Regions from separate parts of the Homo sapiens genome. Here all the other regions are reported to be linked to region 4. Evidence: microRNA targets listed by miRTarBase, many of them from high-throughput screens and not tested one by one. Region 4 holds a microRNA gene; each other region holds the end of a gene's coding sequence.

Region 1 (3,074 bases), not on the chromosome of region 4:
AAGGGAAAATTCCTAATTTTACAGTGGAGAAACCTGGCACACACCACCTTAGCCATGTGATCAAAGTTACCACCACCTAGTCTAGGTGTGGTGGCTCATGCCTGTAATCTCAGCACTTTGGGAGGCCGAGGTGGGTGGATCACCTGAGGTCAGGAGTTCAAGACCAGCCTGGCCAACATGGCGAAAACCTGTCTCTACTAAAAATACAAAAATTAGCTGGGTGTGGTGGTGGGCACCTGCAATCCCAGCTACTCAGGAGGCTGAGGCAGGAGAATCACTTTGAACCCAGGAGGCAGAGGTTGCAGTGAGCCGAGATTGCGCCACTGCACTCCATCCTGGGTGACAGAGCGGGACTCCGTCTCAAAAAAAAAAAAAAAACCAAAACAAAAAGTTACCACCACCCTCCGCTAGGAGGCACTAAGAATAGCACAGTATCACTTCTGTGGTTGTCTTGGCAAAAATGCAGATCCTCAATCATATCATGTAAAAACATTAAACAAACTAAAACTGGGGAATATTCTATAAAATAACTGGCCTGGACTCTTCCAAAGTGTCAAGGTCATGAAAGATAAAGACCAAGAAACTGTCACAGGCTGACAGAGATGAAGGAAACACCACAACAAAATGCAATATGGGACCCTGGACCAGACAAAGGACATCATCGGGAAAACTGGCAAAATTTGAATGTCCGTAGATTAGTTAGTAGTAGTTTATCAATGTTAACTTCCTGGTTTTCTTTTTTTGAGACGGAGTCTCACTCTGTCGCCCAGGCTGGAGTGCAGTGGCGTGATTTCAGCTCACTGCAACCTCCGCCTCCTGGGCTCAAGTGATTCTCCTGCCTCAGCCTCCCAAGTAGCTGGGATTACAGGTGGGCACCAGCGGGCCTGGCTAATTTTTGTATTTTTAGTACAGACAGGGTTTCACCATGTTGGCCAGGCTGGTCTCGAACTCCTGACCTCAGGTAATCTGCCTGCCTCAGCCTCCCAAAGTGCTGGAATTACAGGCATGAGCCACCACACCCGGCAATTTCCTGGTTTTGATAAACTACAGTATGGCTTTGTAGGATGTAATCATTGGGAGATGCTAGATGAAAGATACATGGGAATTTTCTACTATTTCTGCAACTTTCTCTAAGTCTAAAATTATTTCAAAACAAAAAGTAAAAAACAATGAAAAGCAGGCCGGGTCCAGTGGCTCATGCCTGTAATCCCAGCACTTTGGGAGGCCGAGGCAGGCAGATCACAAGGTCAGGAGATTGAGACCATCCTGGCTAACATGGTGAAACCCTGTCTCTACTAAAAATACAAAAAGGTAGCCGGGCGTGGTGGTGGGCACCTGTAGTCCCAGCTACTCGGGAGGCTGAGGCAGGAGAATGGCGTGAACCTGGGAGGCAGGGCTTGCAGTGAGCCGAGATCGCGCCACTGCACTCCAGCTTGGGGGACAGAGTGAGACTCTGTCTCAAAAAAAAAAAAAAAAAAAAAAAGGCAGTCAGTGAGGTAGGGAGCAGCAGCCCCTGAGGGGTAGACAGTGATCCAAGCATCTGCTGGAGCTCACACCCTGGATTCTGACTGCCTCATACCCACCATACTGTTAGGACATGCTTCCATTACCCAAGGGACTTTGATTCCTGGCCCCATTCTCTGCTTCCTGAAAGACTAGCTAACACTACGCGAGGGTTCCATGAAGGGCCTGTGGGGGAAGGTGGGTGGACTGCTTATCAGCAGTGGCTACTGTAGATGGTGCCCAAGGATGCACCAGGCCTTACTGTGCCTGGCTAAGGTGGGCTTGAAACATTGGCTGGTCTGTGAAATGCCCTTGGGGGACGGTGTCCAGACCCTCTGCTTTGTGACTAACATGCAGACTGAATAAACTGCATGTTTATTCCAGGCTCGTTTAGCTGGACGAGCAGTACAGACAGGGCTGAGGCTGACTCCATGGCCATGTGGGCAGAGGTCAAACCCATGATCTCTCTTCCTACAGCTTCCTAATGTCTGCGATGTTGGTCTTTTGAAGGAGGCCCCCACAGAGCTGAGCTTGCTTGGTTATCTGGGACTGCTGCTCAGTCTGAGTAGGGGAGGGTAATGAACCAGTCAGGCCTCCTCCTGGAGGTGCCCAACACTGGCCTAGTCCCCAAGGCTGACGAAACATGGTCTGGCCTGACCCCAGGACGTGGGGTGAGGAGGAACACTGGGCATAATATAGTAGCGGAAACAGGCAAGCCTCTATGGGTCCCTTCCCCTTAGAATTTTAGGGTAGGGAACGAGGAGGCTACAGACTAAATTGCAGAACTATCTGCACCTGGGCCTCTGAGCTCTTCCTCCACTCCCAGTGGAGCCATTCTGGGGACTGAGTTGCATGAGGACTAGCAGAGGGTGGCAGTTCAGTCTGGTCCCTGTCTTCTTCCAGCCAGCTGTGTTCTTAGCTGCCATACTTCTGAGCTTCCTGGGAACATGAGAAAGTCTGGCGACTATGGGGGATGGGGATCATTCTGAAGGAAATAAGGGACCTCCATCCCTCCTTGCCTTGAAGGGGGTGGAAAGGCAGCTCCTCTCCTGAAGGCTTGTTAGCAGGTTATGGGCCCACAACAAAGGGGCCAGAGTAGGGCGAAATTCCTCCTTCAGGTTTTGGGGCTGAGAAGGGGTCTTCATGGGCTGTGAGGAGGTAAGCAGGCCTGAGACTGGGTAGAGATGGGAGCGGCATGAGGGGAAGGTAAGTCAGTTGCCATGCCACAGCCAAGGGGCCTTTATTGGATGGTGAGGGCACATAGGAGCAGGCAGGTGGCTGCTAGATGGTGTTGCACACCTTCTCAGGGTGCAGTGGTGCCCGGATGTCCAGTCTGCGAGTCTTGCTGTCCTTGTCGATGATCTCCAGACGCAGCTTGGGGAGGCGCTTCTCAGCCTGGGGTGAGGGCAGTTCTGGGCTTTTGAGTAGCTGCTTGTCTGAGTCCTCCACCGTGATGCGCAAAGTACAGCCCCCTGGCAGCAGGTCCTGCTCATAGGCTGCTGCCAGCTGGTTCACCACACGGCGTTCTACCTGTCGGTGGGGAGGTGAAGTGGTCACTCCCTCGGCCTGGA
Region 2 (3,083 bases), not on the chromosome of region 4:
TTTTACACTTTACCTGATTGGTTATTAGTTTAAAACTTTCTTAATTAGGTAAGGGGAATAGAACAAAGAAAGAAAAGGAAGTTGCCCAGGGATACTTAAGGAAGCATCTCCAAATAAGGAGTGGCATGCACTATGGGCTGGGGCTTGTCTACTTCTGTCCAGGCATGCCGGAGCAAGCTAGGACAGCTGATTTGGAATATATATATATAATCCATTATATATATATATAAAATCCATTATATATATATATATATAAATAATCCACTATATATATATAATCCACTATATATATATATATAATCCACTATATATATATAGCAATCTTATAGTAAGAAATTGTGACTTTTTATAATCTTTGAAAAAGAACTCCCATTTCTCACATGGAGGAAGAAATTTCTAAGCAGTAAAGCTTTCAAGAGGTGACTTGGGTTGTTTTATGAAAGAAACAGAGCATAAAAGTTTGGAAAATTTGCAGCCTGTCAACGTGATAGAAAGAAAAACCTATCTTCTGAGGAGAAATTGAAGCTGGCTGCAGAAACTTGCATAAGTAATGAGGAGATGAATGTTAATCTCCAAGACAATGGGGAAAATGTCTCCAGTCTGTGTCAAGAGTTTTCACCAGAGCCCCTCCCATCACAGGCCTGGAGGCCTAGGAGAAAATGGTTTCCTGGGCCAGGCCCAGGTTCTGTTAGGCATACAGATACATAACAAGTTAGTCATGTGTGGGAATTAATAAATGAAGAAATTGTACTTGTAAATGCATCAAATGTTCACAAATCCAAGGTCAGTTTTCTTATTTTAAAAATAGAAGCAATGCCAGCTCCACAGGAATGGTTTTGAATATCAAATACTTACATGAAAGGACTTTGGAAGCTATGAAATACAACACAAATGTACAATAATAATAATAAATAACGTCACTGTAGAGAACTAGCCCTTTTCTCTACCTAAGGCTTTTTCTCAGGGGACTGGTGGAACAGAGGCTGACTTCATAGATAGAAAAATATCTAATTTCTACAAACAGGAGCTCTTTGAAAAAAAAAACAAAGCAAAGGAAACAAACCAAACAGAAACATTCAAATCCAAGAGGATAGCTCAGGGCTTTTTAATATAATTCTCATCTTGCCCTACTTCGAACAGGTTTTTAACAGAATATTGATACAACTAAAGAACAACAGAGTAAATACACATAGCATTTATACCATTTGAGGTATTTGGCTATGCTAGGTTTTTTTTTTTTTCTTTCCCTCAGTGGAACCACACATTGAGAAATATAGCTTTAGAACACAATATTCTATCAAAACCAGAAAACAGAGATTGTTTTATTTGAAAACATCAGATATGCAGTGATTCTTTCAATGTCATTTCTTTCACTTAAACCTTCAGGTTTATTAAGCCTCTGATTCTCAATTAGAATAAGTTCCCTAAGTCCCTGTCATAAATAGAATTATATCAACCTTTCACATCTCAGTCACATTGAGTTCTAATAAGTGTGCAACAATAAGACAGCTGAGTATGGAATGGCAATTGGAAAAATATTATACATTGCTTTTTGCCTATTTTAAAATTGAGTAATAAAAGGTATTTATTATTTTGCCATATAAGGTGCTGAGTTCAGGAATATTTTCATGGGAATCAAGTTTTTCCCTCAGGTGTTTGCTTAGTGTACTTCACAACTACTATTGATTCCTTTACAAAGTTGATCCATGAATATTCATTGATGGAAGAGGTCTTAGTGGTCATCTAGTGCTATCCATTTATTTTATAGATAAAGAAATCTCCTATGCTAGGTATTTTTATTTAGTTCATTTATTAGTATTACTAGTGGTAAGCAGTTATCTTATTAATCTGTTAACTTTTACTATACCTATTGAATAACAAGTTAATAGTTTTTAAAAAATTTATTTATTTTATCATATAAATTTGGAAGCACCCAGATTCCTCTACCACAACTAATTAAAATTATGGCATTTATTAGCCCTTGGTGGCAGAAAATTACAGCAAGTCTTTAATGAAATATTGAACATTAATTATAAATAATAAGTTTGCATCCTAGCAGGATGTACAGGTACCACTTAAACTATTCCAAAAACCACAAAGACAAATAATAATATTAGATACCTTAATATCACATGAAAATACCACTACCACCAATAAAAACTATGACAGTAACAGTAAAAACAAAAAAATACAAATTTTATTCAATGGTTGTTATGAACTTGGAATGATCTTAAGCACCTTACTATTTAAAACACAGAGATGGAAACATGTTTAGAAAATGAAAATTCCCTACTTTATTAGAATAACATGGTGAAATCTTAAGATTAATTAGACTGGTCAAATGTTTTTCAGTGTTTTTCCTGTCATGTCTTTATCTGTTCTTAGTGTCAAAGAGCCCACCTTACATGTTTTTTGTTTCTTTGTTTTACAAATTTAAATTGATTGAATAAGTATAGGAGAGAAGGGAATAAAAAACATTCCAATGGTGGTTTGCATATTTTCTTTCTTGTTAAAACTCAGTGTTTTACTTTTTTTTTTTTTCTGTCTTTTTTTGTATTACACTTTTGGTTTATATTGGTGATACATCTTTTTCCTCCTCTTTCTACTCTTATTTTTCCTCTTCCTCCATCTTTTCTTTTTGTGTTTCCTCCTCCTCCTCCTCTCTCTCTTCTTTTTCCTCCTCCATTTCCATTATTTCCATTTCCATTTCCTCTTTCTCTTTCTTCTCTTCCTCTTTTTCCTCCTCTTCATTCCCTGCTTCAGATTCCTCAGGGGTAAATATCATTTGTTGTTCCAACAAGATATTTGGAAACTGAGACTGTACTATCAAAACAGTTATGACACACAGGATAAAACATAATATTCTCAATAATAAAATGAATGTGCACAGTGGATCACACACAACTGGCCGGGGCATTTCCCATTTTGGATACCAAAATCGGTAATCTGTAAACAAAGAAGCAATTGAAAGCTGGATTTCATATAAAGCAGTTCAATTGTTCAAGAAATAAAGGACAACAATACATACATGTGGCTTGGTCACGATCTGCATTACCTAGAAAGAAAAAGAAAGTCCACAAAAA
Region 3 (3,083 bases), not on the chromosome of region 4:
CACACTATGGTGACTTTGTCTTGGTTATTTTGTTTGCATAACCCGCCTTGGGAAAGTAAAGCAGGGGCATATTCTAGGGCTCTAAATCAAATTAACACCTACAAAATGTTGATGCCCAGTTATATGCTGTCAGGCAATTGCCCAAGACTCCAGATAGCAATGTCCATTCATGCCCCTGTAAGAGGTACCTGGATGGAATGACTTATTTTACAACTTCATTTTCAAAGTTGGTTCTCCACATACTTGTATTCCAAGTAATATAAAATTAAAAACATATATTAATCTACATTCTCATAACTTAATCATCCTTTGAGAGAAAATACATCACACTTGGTACTGTACAGTAAGATAGATTGTTCATAGAAAAAAATTCAAATACATTTCTTTTCTACTAAAATGTGGTGGGAAAAGGACAACCCATGCTTTGTGGAGACAGGTCTGCAGTCCACCTGTTCATTATATTCATATTTTCAGTCCAGGAGTCTCCCTAGTCACACAGAAATGCCACCAGTTGGCCTTAAAACACACTTGCTAGAGAGAGGGGAGGCAAACAGTCCTCCCAAATGATGCTGCAGCCTCAAACAGGCTTATCCATTCATATCTTCTCCACCACATTCTTATTAGGCATCAAACAGTCCCTTTAAATAAGAATGGTTTTAATAAGATATTAACAACTAAGTTTCCCATGGAATAAGAATTTCTAACTTAGGGTATCTCAGCACGTATTCCCAGTTACATATGCCCTACACAATTGCTTAAGTGGTAAGCAGTCTGAAAAACTCTCCTCCCTTTACCTCTTTGTGAATCTACAGCAGTCTTTTAAGATTGTTTTGCAAATGCTATATTCAAAAAGAGGTTTTTTTTTTTTCAAGTAAAGTGCATGGATTTCTCAGAAGTTGCTGTATTTTAAGAAGTGCCTCTTTAACCCCATAATGAGCAATCCTTATGTTGGTCAGAAGCAAAGCAGTTTTGTTTGCAATTGTAAATCTTGGCTCTCCTAGCCCAAATCTCACAGCCATCACCCAGGATCTCTGCCCCATATTTCCCTGGAAAATGTCCTAAGTCAAAACAACAACAACAACAACAACTTCATCTTTAGAAATAGGGTGCCTTCACAAATATGGGTAAGCCAACAGTTCATCGAATACTATAGGGAAAGAGAGAGAGAACGGGGATGAGACAGCAAAAACATTAAGACTTGTTCTCAGCATTGCTCTCCTCTCACTGGGCAGTGGCTGAAAACACCAGAAAAGTTGCATTAATAAAACTGCATATAGTCTAACACTGCACAGAGTGCTTTGATACAAGTATCCTCTTGCTACTTCATCTTTTCAATACATCTTTGCAAGGTTTGTTTTCAAAAAGACATTACAAGTTGGCAGGCTTCTGCTTATAAAAATCAATGAAATACTTTCCCTTCAACTCTATGAAACCTGCCATATACCTGAGATTTATTCTTCTCAAATAAATCAAACATAGGCAACGTAACACTCTGGAGTCAACACAGAACATGCCAGGGTGAGTTCAGGCAATGAAAGAACCACTTTTCTGCAAATACATGGTAGAATTGAAGACTGTTTGTAGCTGTCGATAATTTGTAAAAACATTTCCAATGTTCTTTGAACAAAAGATTTTGATTCAGCCAAGATTACAGAAAGGAATCATGACAAAGTCCTAAGTGTACCTTTGTGTGTATTTCATCTGCTCAGCTTTTGCAGGTGACTGTGGTGGTGGTTGCCTGGATATGGAATTCCTTTGCCCTCAAATCTTCACATGCATGAAGTGCAATAAAGAATAAAATGCTGTGTTTATGTCGCACCACTTCTAAGAGGTTTAAAGCGCCGTACGAATGTTACCACATGAATCCCCACAACACCCCTGTGAGGTAGGTAGGTGGAGAGTATTGTCATCCCCACTTTACAGGTGGGAGAAATGAGGCACCCAATAGTTAATAAGAGATTTGCTCAAAATCACACAGCTAGTCACTGGCAGGGCTTAGAATAAAATGTATACTGATTAGCACCTAGCACAGTGCTTTGCACATAGTAGGTGTTCGTTTAATATCTGTGGATTTTATTTGACTTATGTCTCAACATACAATATACACACATAAAGTACAAGCAGCCACCGTAAAACATTTTTCTGATGATATCTCTCATTACTTCAAATCCTGGTGGAGGAAGGAGGTTCAAGAATCCATCTCACAATTAAGACCTCAGGGTTGAAGAGGATCATCATAAAAACTATCAGCTGACAACCAGCTCTTACACCTGCTCTACCACACAATATTATTAATAGTTTTCTAATGAAAACAAAAATGGATTTCAGGAACCATGCTGACATTATTTTTTGCCTGTTTGTTTTCAATGGAGTCATCTGAATGGTTCTGTGTTTTGTTTGTACAAAAAAGAAATAAGGCTGCTATAGTCCAGTTAGCATGTGAAAACTCTGCCAAGCACGAAGATCTCCTCCCAGCTCGGATGGATTGCTACCTGGGAAAATGGACCGACCCAGGGAGTGGCAGGTCCCAAGGAAGAGGGTCAGTGAGGCTGGACGTCACTTGCACTGTTCGTGGTCTGTATAGTCATCCATGTCCACATCCGAATCAAAGAGTGAGTGTCCAGTAAAATCTGTGTCTGGGGTTCTGGAAAAACTGTTTTCTGCTCCCTCATCTTCAAAGGTCTCTGTCCTTGAGTAAAAGCTAAAATCCAGCAGCGGGGTGTGGGTTTTGCTGCCTTCGCTGCTCTCCTCAGACTCATAGATGGTATTGTCATCATCGTGGTGCCACTCTGGCCAAAATTTCCTCCTTATCCTCTCACAGTACATGGCAAGGTTGATCAGCTCACCTGCAGTGTGGTAAGGAAAGCAAGGATTAGTTCTCAAAGGCAGCAGTCTACCACTTCTATGGTCTGTGTTGCCCCAAAACTCCAATGTTGAAATCCTGACTCCCAATGTGATGGTCTAAGGAGGTGGGGCCTTTAAGAGGTGGTTCGTTCATGAGGCCCAAGCCCTCATTCGTGGTACTAGTACCTCATAACAGAGGCCTGAGAGAGCTGCCTTCCCCCTTTTACCATGTGAGGACA
Region 4 (3,083 bases):
AGCCTCCCGGAGTTTACATCTTTGTCACGGGCATAAATCAGTGACTAAGGCAATGGGTGGTGAATTGAGGGTGGGTCTGCGGTGTGGTGGAATGGGCTCTTCTGCTGTGAGCCTTTGTATTCCTTCCCCTAGGAACGGGCACGCGCTCTTGGCATTCATGTTCTCGCGTCAGGAGGGCAAGTTGAACCGCCAGCAGACCATGGAGCTTGGCCACCACATCCTGAAGGCGCACATTTTCAAGGTGAGATGCACACCAACTTGGGGAAGGGTTTCTTTGTTGTCATTTTGAGGTTTTGCTTTGGAGATTTTAGACAGCTCTGTCAGCCATCCAAGAAACGCTCCATGCACCTCAGCCCAAATGCAACCTCCTCCTGCCTCCCCTCTCCAAAAGTAACCGCTGTTCTGACTCAGCCTGGGCATTTCCTTGCATTTTGCTATAGTTGATTGCTCAAGTGTATATCAGAGTGCTGTGCTTAAGTTTTACTTCTTTCCACCTTTAAATCTCTGATAAGTTTCTTTTTATCTAAAGGTTCCACTTTGTTCATTACTTTTTGTTTCCTTATTATTGATTTGTTCGAGAACCTGAGTTTCTTGACCTGTGTGATTTTGTACCACCTGGACTTTCTGACTGTGTTTGCCCAGGCTGGAGAGCAGTGGTGGGATCATAGCTTACTGGACTCAAGCCATCCTCCCGCCTCAGCCTCCCAAGTAACTGGGACTATAGGCACGCTCCACCTTGCAGGGCTCAGATGGTGATATTCTAATTCTGTCATTTATTCTTCCTCTAATTTACTTCCAACATGGTAAAACCTTGTCTCTACTAAAAATACAAAAATTAGCTGGGAGTGGTGGCATGTATCTGTAATCCCAGGTACTTGAGAGGCTGAGGGATGAGAATCACTTGAGCCTGGGAGGTGGAGGTTGAAGTGAGTTGAGATTGCACCACTGCACTTCCAGCCTGGGCGACACAGCAAGACTCTGACTCAAAGAGAAACTCTCATCTGCCATCTCTCTCCCAAGGCACAAAGTTAACCTAGTGAAGGCAGGCTGGTTCCTTGACCCTTGGTTTCAGGTAGTGAAAGCTCGCATGTCCAGGCATTCTTTGTGTGTGACCCCGTGCCTTCTGCAGGTATCTGCACCCTCTGCGGCAGACCCACTTTCAGAGTGACCCTGCAGGTGGGAAGGAGATGCTCAGGCAGATCTGTCTCTGATTGTTTCCAAGATCTGTCTCGATTGTTTCCAGGGCCTCAGTAAGAAGACGGGAATTTCTTCAAGCCATCTCCAAGCCCTGTGGATCGGCTACAGCACCGAGGGGCTGTCCGCCGCCCTGGCCTCTCTCAGGAATCTCTATACTCCCAACGTGAAGGTGAGCAACCTTCTGCACAGAGAGCCGGAGACCCAGCCCTGGCCGGCTGCTGGCCGTTCCTCCAACAGCCCTGTTTCCCTCTGCCCTGGGTGGTGGTGAGAGGACGCAGAGGAGCTTCTAAAGATGTGCTTCCCTGATCACACGGGCTTGGGTGCTGTATTACTCGTTCTTCCAGAAGTTTAGCTTTTCTTTGGCAGGAAGATGTGGGTGGTCAGGGCTGCTCTGAGCACATGTGGTGACTGTTTCACAGCAGATGTGATAAGGAAGCAATTTACAAAAGAAATCAAAGATCAGAGAGATTTCTAGGGAAAACGGATTTTTTAAGTGTCCTGCGTTACTAATCTGGACCATCTCTTCAGAGTTCATGGGAAATTAAGCATGGATGGGTGATGCATAGAGATAAGTACACAGAAAAACAAACATCGAGGTTTCATGTATCCATATTTCTGCCTATGGAAAGGGTATCAGCATGGCCTTCTGTGGAGCCAAGAGCTTCTTCACTTCTTGGTCAGTGGCTTTCATGTCATGATGTTCCACTCAGCTTTTTAAGGTAGATTTTTCTTCCTGATTTCATGTAGCCTGGGAATCTGAAGCACACAGAGGCCAAGCAGCCTGTTAAGGCCACAGAGACAGTGTCCAGGCCTTTCAGCTTCAGGCCCTGATGTACCCGGCTGCCTGTGGAAGCCCTGGGTCAGTTTAGGGAGCCAGGTCTTCCCCCCGAATCACTCACATTGTTTCATCTTTCATTTCAGCTAAGAGTGTATCTCTCGGCTTCTCCATAACTAATAAAATTCTATAATCATAAGAAAGATGAGAATAAAAATGGCAATATGTTTTCATATGTTAATGAATTTCTGGGCATAGAATTTATTTTAATATGGAAATAAGTAAATGGGAAACATCTGTTGAGTACAAGTTTTTAAGACAGTAAATTTAAAGGTACTGCATAATAGTGTAATGAGCATGGCCCTCCTGAGATTATAAACTTTGCTCTTTAACGTATGTGCGATTTTAAGAGTTAATCATTTTTACTTTGTTTTGTAAAACTCCAGTGTCACCTACATCTACACCATCTCCGAAATTATTTCTATAATGTGGTTATAGAATCTTAAGTCTTTTCATTATCCTTCTGTTTCTTTTATCTTTCAAGGGGGGAAAACGGTTTTCACAGGATCTTGAACAAATTACAGTAATTTTAAATTATGCATGCAATTAAGGAACTTTTTTTAGAGTGTATTAAATGTTGTCATACAGGAATGAATGTCATTTTGAACAATAATTGCAGTTTGCCACTTTGGTAAATTAAAGTGACTTGCTCTGGGATGATTACTTGGTAGATGGATTTTAGTTGCAGTGGCATGCCAGCAGTCTCTAACCATGTTGTCTCCTGTGGCCAGGCCAGGATGGGGCCAGCCTGGGCCCCGCTGGCCCACTGGAGTCCCATCCAGCCAGTGGTTTTGTTGTACCATCTCATAGGACTGGTGGCCAGCCGCAAGCTGTGGCCTCAGGAGGATTTAGGTTGCAGTTCTTTTCTCAGCTGACAACAGAAAGGAGAGGAGAACAGGAGCTAGGTGTGGCCTTTGGCCCAACTTCCCTTGGCCGGGAGATCCAGTCATATCCTACATCATAGTCAGGAAGGACACATTTTAAAACAATTGTGCTTGTGTGAGCTTCCAGTGTACTTAGTGGGAATGCTGATGCTGCCCTATGGCCACCC
Region 5 (3,075 bases), not on the chromosome of region 4:
TTCTAAAGGGAAATTAATCTTAACTGTTTATTGATTTGGAGATTGTATCTCATTGGTAAAGAACAGTTACTTCCTTCACAGTCTAAAGACAAATTGTGTATTATTCTGTGTTAAATAGCATGGCACTGTTGATCAGGAGTTTACTTCTGTCTCATTACAATGTGAACTTGTTGCCCATAAAATAATTCTCTTAAGATTGATACATCCTGACTATGTACTAACATGTCATGTCAGTTTATTATTTTAAATAGAATGTGCTAATAACATATCATTTTAAGGTTTATGTGAACTATTTCTCTGAAAGAATAAAAATTTGTCACTGTATAATTGAACATATATTGCACTTTGTATTCACAGGTTTGGGGGAGGCAGATCAGACATGTAAACTATGTACTTCTTGCTAATTGAAATTATTTCTACATTAAACAGACTTGTAGAATTTACTTATACATGCTTGACTTTTTAATTATCTTTTTTCTCCTTTTCTTAAAGATGATACTTGTTGATGCCACTGTTATCATCCTCCTAGCAGAAGATAGTCCTACTGAGAAAATGAGCACTTTGATCATTCAGTCTTTGAACTTTAACCTTTGACTGGAAGTGACCTATAGGCAATGAAGACTACTTCCTTTTACTGCATTTTTACTCGTGTGCATTCTGGGCGCATGTTGATCGCTGGTTCAGTCCAGGCAACTGACATGCTTTTATTAGTCATACAGTATTAATGCAGGTGTCAGGAAATGTCAAATATAATTCCATTTTTTATTTTTATTTTTTTAAGCTTTTGGAAAAGCTCCAGGTCCTCATGTATTGTGCAATAACAATGACTTCCTTGGCGGTTTTGGTACGTTCATTGCCGGCAATGGGCGTTGTAACAGGAAAAGTTTTCATTAACTCCTGCCATTCAATGATTAATGCATGATAGGGCCTATGAAATGAACTTACTGGTTATAGTGGGAATATAAATAAAGTGAGGGATCCAACATTACTTTAAAAGTCACCCCAACTGTTTATATTTGGATTCTATGCACTGTGATCCTAAGGTTAACAGCATGAATTAACATGCGTCTTTAAAGGACTGTAATGAAAGATCATTGCATATTTATTGAATTGTTTATATCTACTGTCAAGTTGTTTTGACATGGAAGATTTTCAAGTAACATTGGCAGAGAGGTACAGTATGTTATCCCTATGGTGAAAATAAATTAATTTGTTGTATATAGTTCCTCAATCTCTGAAGTAAAGGTATGAGTAATATAGGGTATGAATGGTTTAATCAAGGCTTTATTTTGGAAGTAAGAAAAATGGCAGTGATGATTAAATTGCTGCAGTCCATAATTTGGGCTTGTTATTTGTACATTAAAGATTTTTTCCAAGTAAGTTACACTCTGTTAACTTCCTGCTAGCCATCAGCATGAGCCCTACTGCCTAAACACTATTTCATTTATTTATGTTTGGAAACCCCGTAAACATTTTTGTTTGCAATCTTGTTTCTTTTGTTATAAGTCAAGTTTGAATGTTACAATACTTTTATTGAAACTTTTGTTAAGTTTTTTCTTGTAAATTTTCTTTACTTGTGAGTATCATCTTGTCCTTTAATCCTGTACCCTAAAATAAGAAATACATTTTTGACAGAGGCTTAATGTTTTAACAAAAGAGTGTGGACATTTTTATTTTAAAATTTAGGCAAAAGTCACTATCAAATGGTTGCTTATTTGTCTCACACAGCCATATAGTTTTTCCTGGAGGGTTTTGTTTTGTTGTTGTTGAAAAGACTTTGCTTACAGCTAGATGAAACTTTCTATAGAAAAAAAAAATTGTTGAAAGGTCCAGTTCTCAGTACCATGTGAGTTAATGATACTACAACTAAGTTCTTTTTAAAAAGTGATTAATGTATTTTATAAATTACCTTTTCACATATGCAAAATCTGTTTCTACTACAATGTTATTTTTACTAATGCCTTATTGTTGCACTCTTTTTGAAATATCCTGCAGTGAATATATGAATCAATTTGGGCTTAAAACTGAAAGCCAGTTGGCTGAAAGGTTTGAAATACGTACCCCAGTAAAACCATTCAATCAATAATTGGTAAATAATATTTTAAAATTGTTTTTAATCTGTATAGATGACATTTTGTAGCTTTGTACATGTTGTTAATTAAGGGCATATAATTTTACACTCAAAGTATAATTGCTGAACTCAGGGGTGGGTAGACTTCAAAAATATGTCTGCTATAGAAATAACTTGAAAAAAAAAATTAAAACCGTGGCCAGCCACCAAATTGTGGACACTGTTTATATACTGCTAGTTAACAATTACCACTTTTAAAAAATTATAACCGTTTTTGTTCTATCTTGACTAGATAAATTCTCACAATGATCTCTGTCAGTTTTATTAGTTGGCCTGTTTAACCAAGACAGAAAGTCTTTGAATTACTCATAGTTTTAAACTGCTTTTAATATGAAAATTGCAGCTGTAAATTATGTATTTTCATATTTTGCGTAACTGCTCTACACTACTGTTTGACTTGATCTTCTTCTGGGGGTTAGGGAGAAATCTGTCTCCATATTGCTGGTTCTCTTACCAAAATGCTTTTATAAAGAAATGACCGGTGACATTTATTCACCAAAGGAATTAATATACTGAGTCAAAGATTAACAATGCTATACTATAGAGTAATAGGTCATATATAGCCTCAATTGAGTTTTTTATGACAATATTTTAACATACCTCTCTCTCTACATATAAATACCATAAAGTAAACTAAAATGACACAGAGGAAAGTAGAGGAAAATGAAATAATTTCGGTACATCTTATGGTTTAAAGAGTAGAAAATAAGATGAAATATCCTAAAATATAGGAGCACAGACATTTAAAATTCATAATCAGGCTAACAACACTCTCTTGAATTTAGGAATCATTGAAAACTCCTTGCACTTAGATTTAATTTATATGTTAGTTACATTATTAAAAGTCATAAGGCATTTATCTGAGTCATTGCTCTACAGAGAGCAATTAATGGCTTGTAATAATAAAAAGAATATTTCTCTGTAATGCATTGTTGAAAGACAAC
Region 6 (3,076 bases), not on the chromosome of region 4:
GCAGTCCCAGTGAGAACTCTCAAGACCTCTTCCCCCTTGCCTTTAACCTTTTCTGCAGTGATCTAAGAAGCCAGATTCATCTGCACAAATACGTGGTGGTCTACTTTAGAGAGATTGATACAAAAGACGATTACAATGCTCTCAGTGTCTGCCCCAAGTACCACCTCATGAAGGATGCCACTGCTTTCTGTGCAGAACTTCTCCATGTCAAGCAGCAGGTGTCAGCAGGAAAAAGATCACAAGCCTGCCACGATGGCTGCTGCTCCTTGTAGCCCACCCATGAGAAGCAAGAGACCTTAAAGGCTTCCTATCCCACCAATTACAGGGAAAAAACGTGTGATGATCCTGAAGCTTACTATGCAGCCTACAAACAGCCTTAGTAATTAAAACATTTTATACCAATAAAATTTTCAAATATTGCTAACTAATGTAGCATTAACTAACGATTGGAAACTACATTTACAACTTCAAAGCTGTTTTATACATAGAAATCAATTACAGTTTTAATTGAAAACTATAACCATTTTGATAATGCAACAATAAAGCATCTTCAGCCAAACATCTAGTCTTCCATAGACCATGCATTGCAGTGTACCCAGAACTGTTTAGCTAATATTCTATGTTTAATTAATGAATACTAACTCTAAGAACCCCTCACTGATTCACTCAATAGCATCTTAAGTGAAAAACCTTCTATTACATGCAAAAAATCATTGTTTTTAAGATAACAAAAGTAGGGAATAAACAAGCTGAACCCACTTTTACTGGACCAAATGATCTATTATATGTGTAACCACTTGTATGATTTGGTATTTGCATAAGACCTTCCCTCTACAAACTAGATTCATATCTTGATTCTTGTACAGGTGCCTTTTAACATGAACAACAAAATACCCACAAACTTGTCTACTTTTGCCTAAAGTTACCTATTAGAGGTCACTGTCAGAGTTCTCAGTTTCTTAGTTACTATTTAACTTTTCATGTTCAAAATGAAAATAATTCTTAAGTTGAAAGCCCTCTTGAAGTAACCTTTTTATAAATGAGTTATTATAATGGTTTACTTAAATAAAAAACAGGGGTGGGTGCAGTGGCTCATGCCTCCAATCCCAGCACTTTGGCAAGGCCAAGGCAAAAGGATCGCTCAAGACCAGGCTACGTCACAAAGCGAGACCTCCATCTCTACAAAAGATTTAAAAAATTAGCTGAGTGTGATGGTGTAAGCCTGTGGTCCCAGCTACTAGGGAGGCTGAGATGGGAGGATCACTTGAGCCCTGGAGGTCAAGGGTGCAGTAAACGGTGATTGTGCCACTGCACTCCATCCTGGGTGAGAGCAGACCCTGTCTAAAACAAACAAACGAAAAAACCCCCACAGAATGACAGAACATAAAAGATGCACATTTTGTCTTCCAACTTTTTACTCTTCTAAAAGCATCTTTTTTAAATTTTTTAAATTTTTTTTTTTTGAGACAGAGTTTCACTCTGTCACCCAGGCTGGAGTGCAGTGGCGTGACCTCGGCTCACTACAACCTCTGCCTTCCGGGTTCACGCCATTCTCCTGCCTCAGCCTCCTGAGTAGCTGGGACTACAGGCACCCACCACCACACCCAGCTAACTTTTTATATTTTTAGTAGAGACGGGGTTTCACCCTGTTAGCCAGGATGGTCTTGATCTCCTGACCTCATGATCCACCCACCTCAGCCTCTCAAAGTGCAGGGATTACAGGTGTGAGCCACGGCGCCTGGCCTAAAAGCATCTTTTTCTTTAATGCAGAGGTTATGTTGTATTATTAGCATAAATGTTTTTTTTCTGGGAATGCTTATTTCACACAGCACAATACTGAATCTTCTCTGGAATGTGGATCGATTTCAGATGGATGACTATTAAAATGTGTATATTTGCAGATTATCCTTAAAGGGCCACCTCATGCCTTCTAATTTATGTCTTACGGATAAAAAATCAAAATGAAGCATAAAGTAAAAACTGTGTCCAGCTTTACAAGTGGACGCTTAGTAATGGCTGAGGCAATATGTTTAATGTAGCAAATTTTACTTATTTGTCATGATCAGTTTTCACAGTGCTTGTAAGTGCTGGTAATAGAAGATGGACATGGTTTAGGTCAAAACTTGGACCAGAAACCAACTTCCTTTGAAACAGCTCTACCAGTTATAAGAGCAATATGCTGTTAGGTGAAGAACTGTTTAACAGAAATATATTATGTTTTTGCAAACAGGCAGCTGATCCAAAATTGTGTTGAAACACCTCAGAAACATAAATGACATCAATACTCTATAAATTAATGCTGTTAACAAATTTAAAAAATAAAACATACAATTTTCAAATTGAAGGCACACATCCCAGTTGGTACTGGCAAGTTTAAATTGTTTCTAATACTGGTGGACTCTTCATTTGTAACCTACTGAGCAGTTACAGAGGGTACTCCCATTGATACAAAATGCTCAGGTACCGGCATTTCTCCACATCCAGAGTTCTTTCTATATTCCCTTCTGATTTCCATCACTTATCTGTTCCCTGCTTTTGTCCTTCCCCAGTCTCACCCCCATCTCTAGCCATGGTAAGTGAGATGGCGGAAGCAGGTGCCTAGAAGCAAGCAGCAGGAAGCAGCATTTTCCCACTCCTCCCAGAGCTCTGGGCTCCCAGACTGTGTTCCTACCTCTGGACAATGCTTTCTCTTCCTCCTGGGCTCAGAGGGCTTCACCAGAGCCTGGACCACCAGTGGTAATAGCTGCATTATTTAGATTTTGCTTCAGGATGCTCAGAGGTTAAGGTTAACTGATCATACTGAACATCATGAACTCCAAAAGCTTTCACTTAATCCTTCAGGTAAAGGAAAATTGAGGCTTGATGACTAAGTTGGTAGTATTAATAACTACATCAGTCACCATATCTGTACAACACAAGGACTCTTAAATTATACCCAAATCATTTCTATTTGGCTTTAGGAAAAAAACAAGATTTCCTTTTCAGCATTTGTTCTGTTTTGGCCAAATAAAAATTGTTTTCTTTCTTCCTCTAAGCTCACCCTACGGCATGTCAGGTAACAAAAGCCAGTCTGCCC
Region 7 (3,074 bases), not on the chromosome of region 4:
GGGCGTGGTGGCGCAGGCCTGTAGTCCCAGGTACTCTGGAGGCTGAGGCGGGAGAATCGCTTGAACCCAGGAAGCAGAAGTTGCAGTGAGCCAAGATTGTGCCACTGCACTCCAGCCTGGCGACAGAGCGAGGCTCCGTCTCAAATTAATAATAATAATAAAAGAAAAATGTTTAAGTACAGTTGGCAATAGCTCTGGCATGAGTTGTCAGGCACTAGAACTCTGTAACAGCCTCAGAATAAGAAGTCTCTAGTGACTGTGTGCCATTTGGAGTCTGATTTCATCAACCCAGAGTCTCTTGACAGAGTCTCAGGAATACAGGTGAGGGAGCACTTCCCAGACTGCTGTGGCCATTAGCCCATCTTCGTAGGAAACTGTTATGGGGTGGCTAATCTTGCTGTACAACCCATCTTCCCTGGTGGGCTGAGAGTGGGGCCCCTCTTTAGCCTCTTCTGGTGTTTCTCCTCAGGGATCAGTAATGGGGAAGTGGTGGACTGGATGGACTCGACTGGGGAAGAAGTGAGCCTGTGGCAGAAGATGCGACAGTACCCAGGGTCTTGGGCAGAAGGGACTCTGCAGCTCCGTTCCTCAATGGCCAAGCAGAAGCTGGGTTTATGAGTCCCTGTCCTCTTCTGCAGGTCCAGCCCTGGCGAGGGCAGGTCAGAGGAAGTGAAGAAATCAAGAGCAAAGATTTATAATTTAATGTGTATGTGTGTATGTGTGTATGTGTGTGTGTGTGTGTGTGTGTGTATGTGTACAAACATGTATTTTCTGCAAATCTCATTATGCTGGCTAGAGTGATGCAGACTTGTTCTTCTTTTTAAAGCAGTCTCAAGAATAAGCATTTCTTTAAAATGTTTCTGTGTATAATCTAGTTTATTTTCAGAGTCCATTTTTTCTTATGTCTTTATAAGGTTCACTTAACTTAAAAACAGCTTTTAAAACAACTTTTTATCTTCTGTCTTGCTATCATTGTTCCTACTTCCCTAGGAAGCCCTGGCTACCTTTCGCATTAGGACCAGTCTGGGTTTTAAGGCTCTGGGAAGCAGGGTTGGTTAGTAAAGACAGGAATGTTGGGGAGAGGTGAGTAGTTCCTTCCTCTTTCTCCTCTCCAATTTATGCTTTTAACTTATTTTCTACCTGGATAAACTTCTGGAACTTGGCTTTTAAATTTAACTTTTCTAGTTTTTAAGCAGTTTCCACCTTGCTTTGGTCTAATGCTTTTCTTTGAAATGCTAACAGAATTCCCAAGCTTTTTCCAGTTCTAGATATCTTTACTAGACCTTTGGGGGACTCTTATAATGGAGCTGCTTTTGAAAAGCACTTTAATTAGATAATGTATTTTGACTAAATCACGAGGATGCCCAGTGAGAGCTTCTAGCTGATCTCAGAGGACCAGAGTGACTGAGGGTAAAGTGTCTCACAGCCCATGCTGAATTTTCTGCATTTTAAACTGATACTGCAGTCATTGGAGAGAGAGCTCCTCATTTCTCGAATGAAAGATGAGATATATTCATCCTCATGTACCACATCTGTCTTAGTGTTTGCGTCTGGGGTGTGTTATCAAACAGAGCATGGTCTACATCCCACTGTGTCAACCAGAAGAGCCAAGTGTTATCTCAATTGGCCCAGTGTTTCTCCAGGCTGGGGACTGTTAAGGGCTCTAAGGGAATGTAGACAGAGTCTCCCTGTTATTCTGACTTCCTGCTTGATGAGCTTTCAGTTCCTGTTTTTGCTATTGTTTCCTAAATTTGACCTACATATTACATGGGTGTAGTGTGTTGAGGCTTTTCAAAGAAGGGTCTAGTGAGCTAAGTTTCATCTTCTGGTACTCATTGATCAAACTGACCTTTCTATTCTCATAAGCGTTTCTACCCAAAGTTGTGTGTGGAAGGAGTGTATAGCAGAGAGGAAATCCCTTTCAACAGAGTCAGCTGCTAACTGATTTCCTATAAGCACACTGGATTAAGGGCAGCCACAGTGGTTTCTACTGTATGTATGAACCGAATGGAGGAATGTTTTCAAAGATTGATTTGGTGTGGATTGCAATTGTAATGGAAGGCATAACTTGGGATCCCGGGCTGTAACTTGCTCTTTTGTTTCCCACCCCCCTGACATGTATGTGTGCTTTAATAAAGCTTTCTCACTTGTCAAACGTTTGTGTTTGTTAGTTCTATAAATGCTTTTGTCTCTGATGTCCTCACTGTTGCTTTTCCCCTGGCTTGAAGGATAAGAACCAAAGTGATAAATGCTCTTCCCTAACCATCCTATGCTGATTGAAGAAAATTCACCTTTCCCCGCATTGCTGCCTGATACCTTAAATGCCTGATACTTTCGCTGAGCTTGATCCCTCGTCCTTTGTATTTGGTATCTAAGGAGAACACTGAGAAATCATCTTTAAAGTGGCACCACTTTTCTATCTTGTAACAAAGGAACTCTTCCTTTAGCTTTGCAGACCCTCCTATACTGGAGGAAGGAGAGAGATGTTCATACAGGAGGTGAGGGGAGACATTCCCTGCTATAAGCACTTCTTTCTGGATCCTTCAATTTCTCTGGGAGGCGGGGACTTTTTCTTTTACTCCTCCTACCATTATGTAGTTTTGAGAGAGAAATAACACAGGTGCCAAGTAACCCAGCTCAGAAATAAGGCTCTTGATTTCTAGGTAGAACCCAAGCAATTCTTGACCTCTTGTGCAAAAGGGCATTAATATATATCAAATGCTTTTTATGTGCAAGGCTTCATATACTATTTCTTTAATTTCTCCAACCACTTTATGAAGTAGGAAATCTTCCCTTTTTACAGATGAGGAAACTCAAGCCTACTGTCACGTGACAGAGTTGGGCTTTGAATCAAAGTCTGACTCTACTGCACCATGTGGCCTCCTGTGAGAATGGTATGTGTGTTATGGGTGAAGGGTCAAAGGAAGACGTGACTCATCTCTTCTAAAATATCTTAAATAAGTTCAATTTACAAAAAGTAGGACAATCAGAATGCTTTGGATATTACCTAGCCAACTTAGTGACTGTACTGCTTGTGAGTGAGTGTGTGTGTATGTGAGAGAGAGAGAGACAGA

Evidence for each region. Region 4 holds the annotated microRNA hsa-miR-6888-3p (AUCUGUCUCGAUUGUUUCCAG, at 1,223-1,243, shown strand). A microRNA usually pairs through its seed, bases 2 to 8, with sites in the 3' UTR of a target mRNA and lowers its output. Matches are read on the target gene's strand: a 7mer-m8 pairs with bases 2 to 8, a 7mer-A1 pairs with bases 2 to 7 and ends in A, and an 8mer does both.
Region 1: the mRNA of CLPB is a reported target of hsa-miR-6888-3p. Seed matches in the 3' UTR shown: 7mer-m8 at 1,453-1,459.
Region 2: the mRNA of GLIPR1L2 is a reported target of hsa-miR-6888-3p. Seed matches in the 3' UTR shown: 8mer at 2,540-2,547.
Region 3: miRTarBase lists FAXC as a target of hsa-miR-6888-3p. The part of its 3' UTR that is shown has no 7-base or 8-base seed match.
Region 5: the mRNA of UBE2W is a reported target of hsa-miR-6888-3p. Seed matches in the 3' UTR shown: 8mer at 2,416-2,423.
Region 6: the mRNA of IL17RB is a reported target of hsa-miR-6888-3p. The part of its 3' UTR that is shown has no 7-base or 8-base seed match.
Region 7: the mRNA of SYTL4 is a reported target of hsa-miR-6888-3p. Seed matches in the 3' UTR shown: 7mer-m8 at 1,676-1,682.

Annotation. Positions count from the first base shown.
Region 1 is chr11:72,290,583-72,293,656 of GRCh38, forward strand. It overlaps CLPB (ClpB family mitochondrial disaggregase), which reads right to left. Exons shown (of 16, transcript NM_001258392.3): 16 at 1-3,033. The coding sequence ends at 2,785. Among named protein-coding and RNA genes, the nearest start is that of PHOX2A, 48 kb to the left of the region's middle.
Region 2 is chr12:75,430,687-75,433,769 of GRCh38, reverse strand. It overlaps GLIPR1L2 (GLIPR1 like 2), which reads right to left. Exons shown (of 6, transcript NM_001270396.2): 5 at 3,029-3,055; 6 at 1,082-2,946. The coding sequence ends at 2,609. Among named protein-coding and RNA genes, the nearest start is that of GLIPR1L2, 41 kb to the right of the region's middle.
Region 3 is chr6:99,278,608-99,281,690 of GRCh38, forward strand. It overlaps FAXC (failed axon connections homolog, metaxin like GST domain containing), which reads right to left. Exons shown (of 6, transcript NM_032511.4): 6 at 1-2,846. The coding sequence ends at 2,557. Among named protein-coding and RNA genes, the nearest start is that of FAXC, 70 kb to the right of the region's middle.
Region 4 is chr2:159,185,659-159,188,741 of GRCh38, forward strand. MIR6888 (microRNA 6888) reads left to right here and starts at 1,177; the gene lies at 1,177-1,243. It overlaps TANC1 (tetratricopeptide repeat, ankyrin repeat and coiled-coil containing 1), which reads left to right. Exons shown (of 27, transcript NM_033394.3): 15 at 133-241; 16 at 1,244-1,366. RefSeq lists an enhancer at 1-113 and a cis regulatory region at 29.
Region 5 is chr8:73,791,533-73,794,607 of GRCh38, reverse strand. It overlaps UBE2W (ubiquitin conjugating enzyme E2 W), which reads left to right. Exons shown (of 6, transcript NM_018299.6): 6 at 493-3,075. The coding sequence ends at 506. Among named protein-coding and RNA genes, the nearest start is that of STAU2, 46 kb to the right of the region's middle.
Region 6 is chr3:53,865,037-53,868,112 of GRCh38, forward strand. IL17RB (interleukin 17 receptor B) reads left to right here. Exons shown (of 11, transcript NM_018725.4): 11 at 1-758. The coding sequence ends at 272. It overlaps ACTR8 (actin related protein 8), which reads right to left. Exons shown (of 13, transcript NM_022899.5): 13 at 2,030-3,076. Among named protein-coding and RNA genes, the nearest start is that of ACTR8, 16 kb to the right of the region's middle.
Region 7 is chrX:100,673,572-100,676,645 of GRCh38, reverse strand. It overlaps SYTL4 (synaptotagmin like 4), which reads left to right. Exons shown (of 20, transcript NM_001370165.1): 20 at 470-2,155. The coding sequence ends at 618. It overlaps SRPX2 (sushi repeat containing protein X-linked 2), which reads right to left. Exons shown (of 11, transcript NM_014467.3): 11 at 858-3,074. Among named protein-coding and RNA genes, the nearest start is that of SRPX2, 31 kb to the right of the region's middle.